Linked DNA regions of Homo sapiens: region 2 is linked to region 1. Evidence: fine-mapped expression QTL. A gene starts in region 1. The other region holds a variant in brackets. All regions are shown on one strand. Distances are between the middles of the regions.

The links. PIP is the estimated chance that this variant, and not a neighbour inherited with it, causes the effect.
Region 2: its variant is fine-mapped to the expression of TPCN2 in fibroblasts (GTEx, PIP 0.95).

The regions. Positions count from the first base shown.
Region 1 is chr11:69,046,314-69,051,501 of GRCh38, forward strand. TPCN2 (two pore segment channel 2) reads left to right here and starts at 2,619. Exons shown (of 25, transcript NM_139075.4): 1 at 2,619-2,793. The coding sequence starts at 2,685. RefSeq lists silencers at 2,357-2,576, 2,697-2,866, 2,947-3,046 and an enhancer at 5,023-5,188.
Region 2 is chr11:69,073,116-69,078,313 of GRCh38, forward strand. The region is part of intron 13 of TPCN2 (two pore segment channel 2); the gene reads left to right. Among named protein-coding and RNA genes, the nearest start is that of MIR3164, 7.5 kb to the right of the region's middle. The variant G/A (reference allele first, on the strand shown) is at 2,831.

The DNA.
Region 1 (5,188 bases):
TCCTGACCTCAGGTGATCCGCCTGCCTTGGTCTCCCAAAGTGCTGGGATTACAGGCATGAGCCACTGTACCTGGCCTGAAAGCAGAGTCTTGACGAATTATTTGTACACTCATGTTCACAGCAGCATTATTCACAATAGTCAAAAGGTGGAAGCAACCCAGTGCCCATCCATGGATGACTGGATAAGCAAAATGTCATGGATACATACAGTGGAGTATTATTCAGCTTTAAAAAGGAAGGAAATTTGGACACATGCTACATGGATGAACCTTGAGGATTTTAGGCTAAATGACATAAGCCAGTCACAAAAGAACAAATACTGCAGGATTCCACTTAAATGAGGAACCTAGAGTCGCCAAAATCTTAGGGATAGAAAGGAGAATGGTGGTTTCCAGGGGCTGAGGGAATGAGGAGTCAGTGCTTAATGGGTCCAGAATTTCAGTTTTGCAAGATAAAAAGAGTTCTGGAGTTGGAGGTGATAGTTGTATAGCATCATTAATATATTTAATATCAATGAGCTGTACACTTCAATATAGTTATGTGAACTAAAAATATCTGAGACAGGTCTCGATCTATTTAGTAAGTTTATTTTGCCAAGGTTAAGGAGTGCCTGGGAGGCAGGTCTATGCCTTCCTTCAAGGATGATTTGTAGGACTTCAATATTTAAAGGGGAAACTGGCCAGGTGCTGTGGCGGAGGTTGCTGAGTGACCTGAGATCGCACCACTGCACTCTAGCCTGGGCAACGAAGCAAGACTCTGTCTCAAAAAAAAAAAAAAAAAAAAAAAAGGGAAAGGGTGGATATTGGGAAAGAGGGAGAAATTTTAAAAATATGTGGAGAGATAAGAGACAAAGGTTGCATTCTTGTGAGTCTTTGATCAGACTTTCACTGAAATACACAATTTACAGGTTGCGGGGGTAGAGGAATAGTCACTTATGCCTTAGTCTGGCTCGGTGAATCTGCACTTTTATACCAGAGGAAGCAATCAGGTGAGCAGAGGGATGACTTAGAGTTCCATCCTTTGTTTGGAACCTGTGAAGATCAGTTGTCAATGTACATTGTTAGGGTAAAATTCAACAAAACTGTTTTAGGGTAAAGATCTTGGGTGCCCACGAAAAATTTCCTAGCGGGCAAATTGTGAGGGAGGTATGTAGCTTTTTAAATCTTCGTAGCTATTTTATTAAAGAAGAAAAGGCGAGGCAGTTTGCCCAACGCAGTTCCCAGCTTGACTTTTCCCTTTGGCTTAGTGATTTTGGAGTCCTGAGATTTATTTTCCTTTCACAGTTATGATGGTAAATTTTATATTTATTTTAAACCCTCCCCCCTCCCCAAAAGAGGGGGAAAAAGTAAAGAGGTATGGCAGAAGGGGAAGTCACAGAGATTGGAAGCGTCTTGCAGCACCTTTTTTTTTGAGATGGAGTCTCGCTCTGTTGCCAGGCTGGAGTGCAGTGGCGCAATCTCAGCTCACTGCAATTTCCGCCTCCCGGGTTCAAGCGATTCCCCTGCCTCAGCCTCCGAGTAGCTGGGACTATAGACACGTGCCACCACGTCTGGCTAACTTTTTGTATTTCAGTAGAGACGGGGCTTCACCATGTTGGCCAGGATGGTCTCGATCTCCTGACCTCGTGATCCACCTGCCTCGGTCTCCCAAAGGGCTGGGATTACAGGCGTCTTGCTGCATCTCGAAGCGTCTTCAGCGTGCTCTTGCTTGCTGGCTCTGATGATGGAGGTGTTCAAGCCATCGTGGAAGGAATGCAGTGGCCTCTAGGAGTGAGAATGACACCAGCCAACATCCAGCAAGAAGACGTGGACTTCAGTCCTAGGCCCATGGAGACAATTCTGTTAACATCCTGGATGAGCCTGGAAGTGGGCTTTCCCCAGAGTCTGCAGATAAGAGCCCACGGCAGCTGACATTTTGACTCTAGCCTCGTGAGGCCCTGAGACAGGAGGTTTCCTGCCCCGCAGGACTGAAAGATGATGAATGGGAGTTATTTTATATTTTCAGATTGTGGTAATTAGTCACTGTAGCAATAGAAAACGAATACAAGGTCTTTATGCATTAATGTTGAAAACACTTTTTATATACGTTGTAAATATTTTTTAAGTGTGTCATATGTTTTTAAACTTTTCCCTTAATGATATTGAATCCTCCTAATTTCACCATCAGAGGGTAAACTCCAGTTCCATTCTGGGGGGAGTCCTTTGCAGTCACCCCGTGTACTCAATACTCACATGCATCAGAATCACCCCGAATGCTTGTTAAAACACAGATTCCTGGGTCCTCCCCGCAGAGTTGCTGATTTAGTAGGTTTAAGGGCCCAAGAATTTGCATTTCTAAAATGTTTCCAGGTGATGCTGAAGCTTCTGGCCGGAAAGACATCCTTTGAGAACATATTTCCTCCCCAGCCCTCGGCCCTTAAGCCCCAGAACGCTGCCCCGCCCTGGGTGGAACGAAGCTGAGCTCCACCCTAGAGGGGCGGGGCCCTTTAGCTCCGCCCCACTCAGGAGAACCCCACCCCTCCCTCCCCGTTCTCATTGGCTGGGACTGCAGGGATCCCCTGCGCCACAGTGCCGTGCGCGCGTCAGCAAAAACGCCAGGGACGGGGTCTCCGCGCCTGCGCAGTGAAGCTGGGCGCCTTCGGGGCTTGAGCTTCTGAGGGTCGGGTCCAGCGCGTGGGCTGCTGGATGGCGGAACCCCAGGCGGAGTCGGAGCCCCTGCTGGGCGGGGCCCGCGGCGGTGGCGGCGACTGGCCGGCGGGGCTGACCACTTACCGCAGCATCCAAGTCGGCCCTGGTGAGCCGCCCGGACCTGGGGAGGGGACTGGCCCGGGAGACCAGGGTCGCGCGTGGGGGTCCCGCTGTCCCAGCACCCCGCTTTCTGCCGGGCGCGCCCCCACCAGGTTCGAGTCCGAGCGGGGCCCGGGCCGCGCCGGGTGCCAGGCGAGCCGGTGTTCTGAGGGCGAGTGGGCTGCGTCCTGCGGACCCGGACCGGGGTCAGGGCAGAGCTGGGGTCTCTTCCGTGTCGCGTCCTGATCCCGACCAGCTGGGCGAAGAGGCCCTCGCCCAGCCTTGGGCAGCCCCGAGGGAACCGGCCACCTGCGGCAGGCACCCTCCGTGTGCCCGGGCGGGCCCAGACCCCATACTTCCCGACTGTCGCCGTAATGAGGGTCGCCTAATTGACTCAGAGAAGGCAGCACTTTGATTTTTCCCGTTTCTTCTGGAAAAAGCAGAGGCTCACAGAGAGGCGTTACCCTACCCAAGGTCACACACCCAGTAAGTGGCCGAGGTGGGATTCGAACCAGTTGGGAGCTAGGAGTCCTTTCTTTGTAGGGTGCCTTTCCCCGTCCCACTTCCCGTGGGGCTGGGGCGGGCCCCCTAGACGGGGGCGGCTTCCTCTCCTTGCCCTCTGCCACCCCAGAGTCCCCTCTGCACTCCCTCCTGCCCTTCCCGTTTTTTGTCCTGGTCTGAAGATTGCTGAATCCGCCCCCCGAGGGTGGGGTGCGTCCGCCCCTCGCTGACACCAGGGGAATGAGATTCTGGATTAAGAGGTGGAAGGACCTTAGCTTCACTTCACAGATGAGGAAACTGAGGCCCAGAGAGGCCCTGAGACCTGCCCAAGGTCACAGCCCTCTGTTCTGGTGCGGCTGCTGCTCGAACCACTCTGAGAATTCACACCTGGCTCCTTCCCTCTCTGGCCTCTCTTTCCTTCTTTCCTCCTCTGTCTGGAAGGAACTGGGTTGGAATCCTGGTGCCCACCCACTGGTCTGTGGCATGTGCCCATCCATGGAGTAATGAGGGGCCAAGGAGGGGACCCTGACGAGAGATGAAAAACCAGAGGCCAAGGTGGCCACCCTGTCTGCTCACCTCAGAAGCTGCCTCCAGGAAGTTCTTCAGGTGCTTCCTGGGACCAGTCAGGAAGGAGATCTGCAGGGAGCAGCTCTGGCAGGCCCCTTGATGAGACGCCCAGCATATGGCACCGTTCAGGGAACACAGACTTTGTGTCTAGGGGTCTGGGCGCCTTTCTGGGGCTGCACTGGCTGTGTGACCTTGGCAGGTTGCTTAACCTTTCTGTTTCTTTTTTGAGATGGAGTATCACTCTGTCACCCAGGCTGGAGTGCAGTGGCGTGATCTCGGCTCACTGCAGCCTCTACCTCTGCTGGGTTGAAGCGATTCTCCCGCCTCAGCCTCCCAAGTAGCTGGGACTGCAGGCGCCCGCCACCACACTTGGCTAATTTTTGTATTTTTAGTAGAGATGGGGTTTCACTGTGTTGGCCAGGGTGGTCTCAAACTCCTGACCTCGGGTGATCTGCCTGCCTCGGCCTCCCAAAGTGGTGGGATTACAGGCGTGAGCCACTGTGCCTGGCCATGCTTCACCTTTCCGAATCTCAGTAAAAGGGAGATAATACTAAGGACTGCCTGGCGGGCATTGTGAGGATTCAGAGAGAATCCAGAGTTTGTCCTCAGCACAGGGCCCGGCGGGCTGGTGTGGGGGCCAGTGGCCGTCCTGGGTAAGCTCTGTGATCATTGCAGGTCCTCCCTGGCAGGTGAGACCCGCTCTGCTGGGCAGTGTGGCTGACAAGAGGAGGCTCTCGGGGAGCGCTCTTTGTCCCTATGCTGTGGCCTCAGCCAGGGCTTCTGAGAACGTGGACAGGACGCTCTGTGTTCTGAATCCCCTTGGCCAGGGTCCCCAGCAAGGACTGGCAGACTATGGAGCCATGGAGACTCCGAAAGGCTCATTCAGTCTCTGTGCTGAGGCCTGTGCCAGGCTTTGAAATGAAGGCCCTGTGCTCTGGTTTGCAAGTCCTGTGGTTGGTCTCTTGCCAACGGGTTGTGGTGAGGGCTGCTGCTGTGGGTGCCCCAAGGACCCCAGTGGACCCTGCTGTTGGGTCGTTTTGACTTGGCCCCACCTGATGGGGCCGGGGTCAAAGGTTGAGAACAGTTGTTTTCTCTTGTTGCTGGGTCAGAAAAATCACACTTTTACTGGTTATCAAACAAGTCAGAGGACAAGGGATTGCGATGCTGTAGAGGCTTTCAGAGTAACTGAATGCTTATGAAGGGCTCACTTAGCAAAGTACTCTGGCTATAGTAAGTCATTCAGTCTGTACTTAGCTCCTATTGGGTGGGGGTCCATGAGGACCTGGAGCACCTAGAGGTTAAGGGACTTGCCCAGGGTCACAGAGGATGATGGT
Region 2 (5,198 bases), 27 kb after region 1:
TCCTGGCTCCTAGTATGGGAACTGGGAATGGAGTTCTCTTTGGCTCTTGGAGACTGGGGAGATTTTTATGAAATTCACCAGACCCCAGGAACTAGCCTGAGCCCAGCCCGACATGAAGGAGTCTTCCAAATGGTCTTCTCGGTTTCCATGACAGACTCTCCTTTTCCTGTCTGTCCTTCCTCAGGAGGTCCACACACTGGTCCTCTCCAAGGCCTTTGCCTTTCACCCTTGACACTTACAAAGTTCCCAGGTGGGCCTCAGCATCCGACTAAGCTCTGTGTCCAGAAGGCCTGGGCCAGGTGGGTGGAGACAGTGGGAAACAGCCCAGGTGCTCACAGGCAGTGTGGGGGCAGCACGGGGGCTGCCATTCCAGCTGCTCAGCCTCAGAGGACTGAGCCAGACCCTGGAACAGGGATGGGGCAGAGAGGTGGGGTGGCAGACGCCTGCCAGTTCTGTGTCACTTTTCTCGTTTGCTCAGGCTCCTGGGACGGCACCACAGACTGGGGCGGGGGCAGGGCTGAAGCAGCAGACATTTGTTATCTCACAGTCCTGGCCGTCAGTCCAAGGCCAAGTGTCACAGGGCTGGTTCCTCCTGAGGCCCCTCTCAGTGGCTTGTAGGTGCTGTTCTTTCCCCATGTCCTCACCTGAGGCCTCTCTCCGTGGCCTGTAGATGCCAGCCTCTCCCTGTGTCCTCACCTGAGGCCTCTCTCCGTGGCTTGTAGATGCCAGCCTCTCCCTGTGTCCTCACCTGAGGCCTCTCTCCATGGCTGTAGACATCGCCTTCTCCCTGTATCCTCACGTGGTCATCCCTCTGTGTGTCATCTCCTCCTCTTATAAGGACCCTATTCAGATTGGATTAGGGCCCATTCTAATGGCCTTGTTTTAACTAAATTACCTTTTAAAAGGCCCTGTCTCCAAATATAGTCACATTCTGAGCTACTGGGGGTTAGAGGTTAAAGATACGAATTTCGAGGGAGACAAAATTCAACCCATAGCAACTGTCAGCTGCTTCAGGATTCCTTGTCGGCCCCTGTGGCTGCAGGACCCTGTCAGAGGTGGTTCTCTAAAAAACATTGTTTTCCTAAGGTCCTTCCAGACCTCTGTAGTCAGGCCCTGCCCCAGCCTGAGCTTGAGTGCCACGCACTCGTCCCCATCCTCACTTCGGGCATCCTCTTTAGGGCTGCATTCCTCATTGTGGCACCCCCAGCCCCTTGGGGCATATGGGCGATGAGTGTGGTGAGGATCAGTAGGTGGCAGTTTGAATATTCACGCCATCAAACCTCTGTTTGGGACAAGGCTGGGCAATGCGTTATCAACTTAAGGTTGACTTGAAGATACGAAATAAATTTTACCAGGTGCAGATTTCACAGAAACTGTGGAGATGGTCCTCAGATAACAGAAAGTTAAGAAGCACCATTCTAGATAAAGGCGCTTGTCCTAGGGGCGGAGCTGTTTGGGGCTCAGGAAGCAGCTCTTAGCGGCTGTCGTAGGCTAGGTTTGCTGTGATCCGGCCCATGTTTAACCCAGACGGACACCTTGGCCAAGAGAGATTTCAGCATTATCTATTATGTCTAAATTGTTACAAGGAGAAGGTGTTCGTATGTTAGCTGTGTAACTGAGAGATAACTGATATGACTAAAGGGGCAGGCAGACACAGGCTGGGAGAAGCCAGTCATCCTAAAGGTTCTGGAAAGGTGGTTTTTGTTCCTCAGGCTTTGCTCCTGGTGTGTTCTGGGCCATCTGGGCTCTCCCTGGGCAGTTGTTGCCGTTCCCTAGGGCGTGGTTGAGTCCTGGTTGTCCAGAGCTGACTCTCCCACCCTTTTCCAGTGTCAGGATTTGGTGAGACCTGGAAAGGGGTTCCTCCTCCCGTGATGATGTGGAGGAAGGGCGGATGGATTGCTTTGGCCGTGACCCAGTAGAGCGGGCTTGTGTGCGCACAGGAGTGGGGAAGGCCCAACACGCAGGCCTGGCCTGATTCCCAGCCTGGTGGTCTCCCTGGAGGTCCCGGCGATGCTCTTCCCAGGGCACCGAGCACTGGGCTTTGAGATGGGAGTTTAGGTTCCACAGGTTTTGGGAGCCACAATAGCCTTAATCTGGTTTTCTGACTCCTTCTTTCCTCAATAATGCTGACTGTAGAGGGGAGGCCGTTGCCCCTCGGTATCTGCAGGGATTGGTTCTAGGACTCCATGTGGATACAAAATCCATGGATGTTTAAGTCTCTTAAGATGATGTAGTGTTTGCATGTAACCTACACACATCCTTCCGTATACTTTAAGTCATTTCTAGACTACTTGGAATACCTAGCACCTAGGAATGCAGTGGGAGTTTGGGGAATAAGGGTAAGAAAACCTGTACATGCTCCGTACAGATGCTTTTTCCCTGAGTATGTTTTGATCTGCAGTTGGTTCAGTCTGCGGACGCAGAGCCCGCTGACGTGAAGGGCTGGCAGAGCTTCAGTTTGGGAGGCAGATGCTTCTGGGATTGCTCAGATTTGGGGCAGCCTGTGGTTTTGGAAGCACAAAGAGGTCCTTTCTCGGCAGGCTGACGTCATGGGAGCTCCAGCCTTTTCGAGAGCCCTCCCGTGTGGGGTCACTGCCTGGGCGTCAGCCTGGCCGTGGCCAGGGAGTCGGTTGGTGCTTGCTGGCGAGCTTCAGAGAAGGTGCCCTGCCTGCTGCTGAAAGAAGTCTCCTCTTCATATGAGAAGCTTTTGGGGTTAAAAATGTAGTGGTCATTCATTATAGACAACAGAGGGAAGTGGGAAAATCCACCTCACGGGCTTTCTACCCAGAGACAAGCACTTTAGTCATATCAGTTATCTCTCAGTTACACA[G/A]CTAACATATGAACACCTTCTCCTTGTAACAATTTAGACGTAATAGATAATGCTGAAATCTCTCTTGGCCAAGGTGTCCGTCTGGGTTAAACAGAAAGTGTCATGTACGGCAGTGGCAACTACGATAAAAGAGTAACTGCAAGATGTAAGGAAACCATGTGGTGTCCTTGGGCTGAGGGGAGTGCATGAGGAAGGATGGACCTGGAAGGGGACCCTCCGAAGCTGGGGTTCAGACCTCTTGAGAGCAGGTGTGGTTTTGCCCACAGGAATGCAGAGACGTTCACTGGCTTCCCCGGGCTGCGGTTGGTTTGTGGTCACTGGGTAAGCAGGAGGCGACCCTCCTGGGTGCAGCAGGCCCAGGCTGTGAGCAGGCAGTGGCGTGGTCCTGCCGAGGGAATTCGGTGCCAGTGTGGGCAGGTGGCCTTTGGGCACTGGTTTCCACATTGAGGACTGTGGGAAGCTGGGAAATTTTCAGGAGGTCAGGCTGTGGCTGTAGGTCCCCTGGGGACTATGTGTCTCGGACAGAGCGTGTCCAGATGTGCTTAACACCACACTCCGATCCACCCCGTAGCATCCGGAAACCGCAGGGGAGGCCTGCCCTCCTGCTCTGTCCCTCCACCTGCCCTCCTGCTCTGTCCCTCCACCTGCCCTCCTGCCGTGTCCCTCCACCTGCCCTCCTGCGGTGTCCCTCCACCTGCCCTCCTGCCGTGTCCCTCCACCTGCCCTCCTGCCGTGTCCCTCCACCTGCCCTCCTGCCGTGTCCCTCCACCTGCCCTCCTGCTGTGTCCCTCCACCTGCCCTCCTGCTGTGTCCCTCCACCTGCCCTCCTGCCGTGTCCCTCCACCTGCCCTCCTGCCATGTCCCTCCACCTGCCCTCCTGCCCTCGTGCCATGTCCCTCCACTTGCCCTCCTGCCCTCATGCCATGTCCCTCCACTTGCCCTCCTGCCCTCCTGCCATGTCCCTCCACTTGCCCTCCTGCCATGCCCCTCCACCTGCCCTCCTGCTGTGTCCCTCCACCTGCCCTCCTGCCATGTCCCTCCACCTGCCCTCCTGCCACGTCCCTCCACCTGCCCTCCTGCCCTCCTGCCATGTCCCTCCACCTGCCCTCGTGCCATGTCCCTCCACTTGCCCTCCTGCCCTCCTGCCATGTCCCTCCACTTGCCCTCCTGCCCTCCTGCCATGTCCCTCCACCTGCCCTCCTGCCGTGTCCCTCCACCTGCCCTCCTGCCGTGTCCCTTCACCTGCCCTCCTGCCATGTCCCTCCACCTGCCCTCCTGCCATGTCCCTCCACCTGCCCTCCTGCCACGTCCCTCCACCTGCCCTCCTGCCCTCCTGCCATGTCCCTCCACTTGCCCTCCTGCCGTGTCCCTCCACCTGCCCTCCTGCTGTGTCCCTTCACCTGCCCTCCTGCCATGTCCCTCCACCTGCCCTCCTGCCCTCCTGCTGTGTCCCTCCAGCCCCTCCGCTAAGAAAGCCTCAACTCCCGTTCACTGTGGATGAGACGCTGAAAGGGACCCTGCCCGTTGTGGCAGAGTGCGTATCGAGGAGGATGTCGGGAGCCGAGAGGAAGTTCGCTGATCATTGGCACCACCAGTTTGGGTCTCACTGGAGAATAGCCACTCTATTCAACTGGATATTTTGGTGTTTTCCTTCCAGACTTTTCCCTGTGTAATTTCAGGCATTTGTAGTTACCTGGGGAAACAGTTGCTTTGTTCTTCTTTGACGTATACATGAAGCATTGCGATTTTCACTCTGCAGCCTGCCTGTTCACGCAGCCATGTCTTCTTACCCTCTCCATTTTCATATGGACTTTCTGGGGGGATGAGCTGTAGCCACGTGTCACATGTGGCTGTGGAGTACTTGACACGTGGCTGTTGCCACCGAAGAACTGAGTGTTGAATTTTGTTGCATTGAAATTTTCATGAAATAGCCGCCGGTGGTCAGTGGCTCCCGTGTGGGACAGCGGGTGCAGGTCTCCTTGCTGAGAAATGTTTAGGCCATTCCCCTTGTTGACCTCTTGCACACACAGACGTGTCTCAAGGAGGCTGCTGAGCGTGGGAAGTGCTGGGTCTCACAAGGGTCCTGACAGTGGCAGCGTCTGCCCGCCTGCCCCTCATTGCCTCCTGCTGCTGCTGGCCACAGTACAGGAGTTGGTTCTGTGCTGAGTTTCTGTAGCTATGAGTATATCACTTACCTGTGTTTTTTCACACAGCTTTTTTTTTTTTTATATATATCAGGGTGACACTTTGCGTATGTTTCAGGTGACTCTAATATCACAACATGGTTTACTTACAGCCTCAGTGGATGTTTCAGTTGCTTCTATTTCTCTTTGGGTGTTACAAAGACCACTGAGATGAACACCTTTGT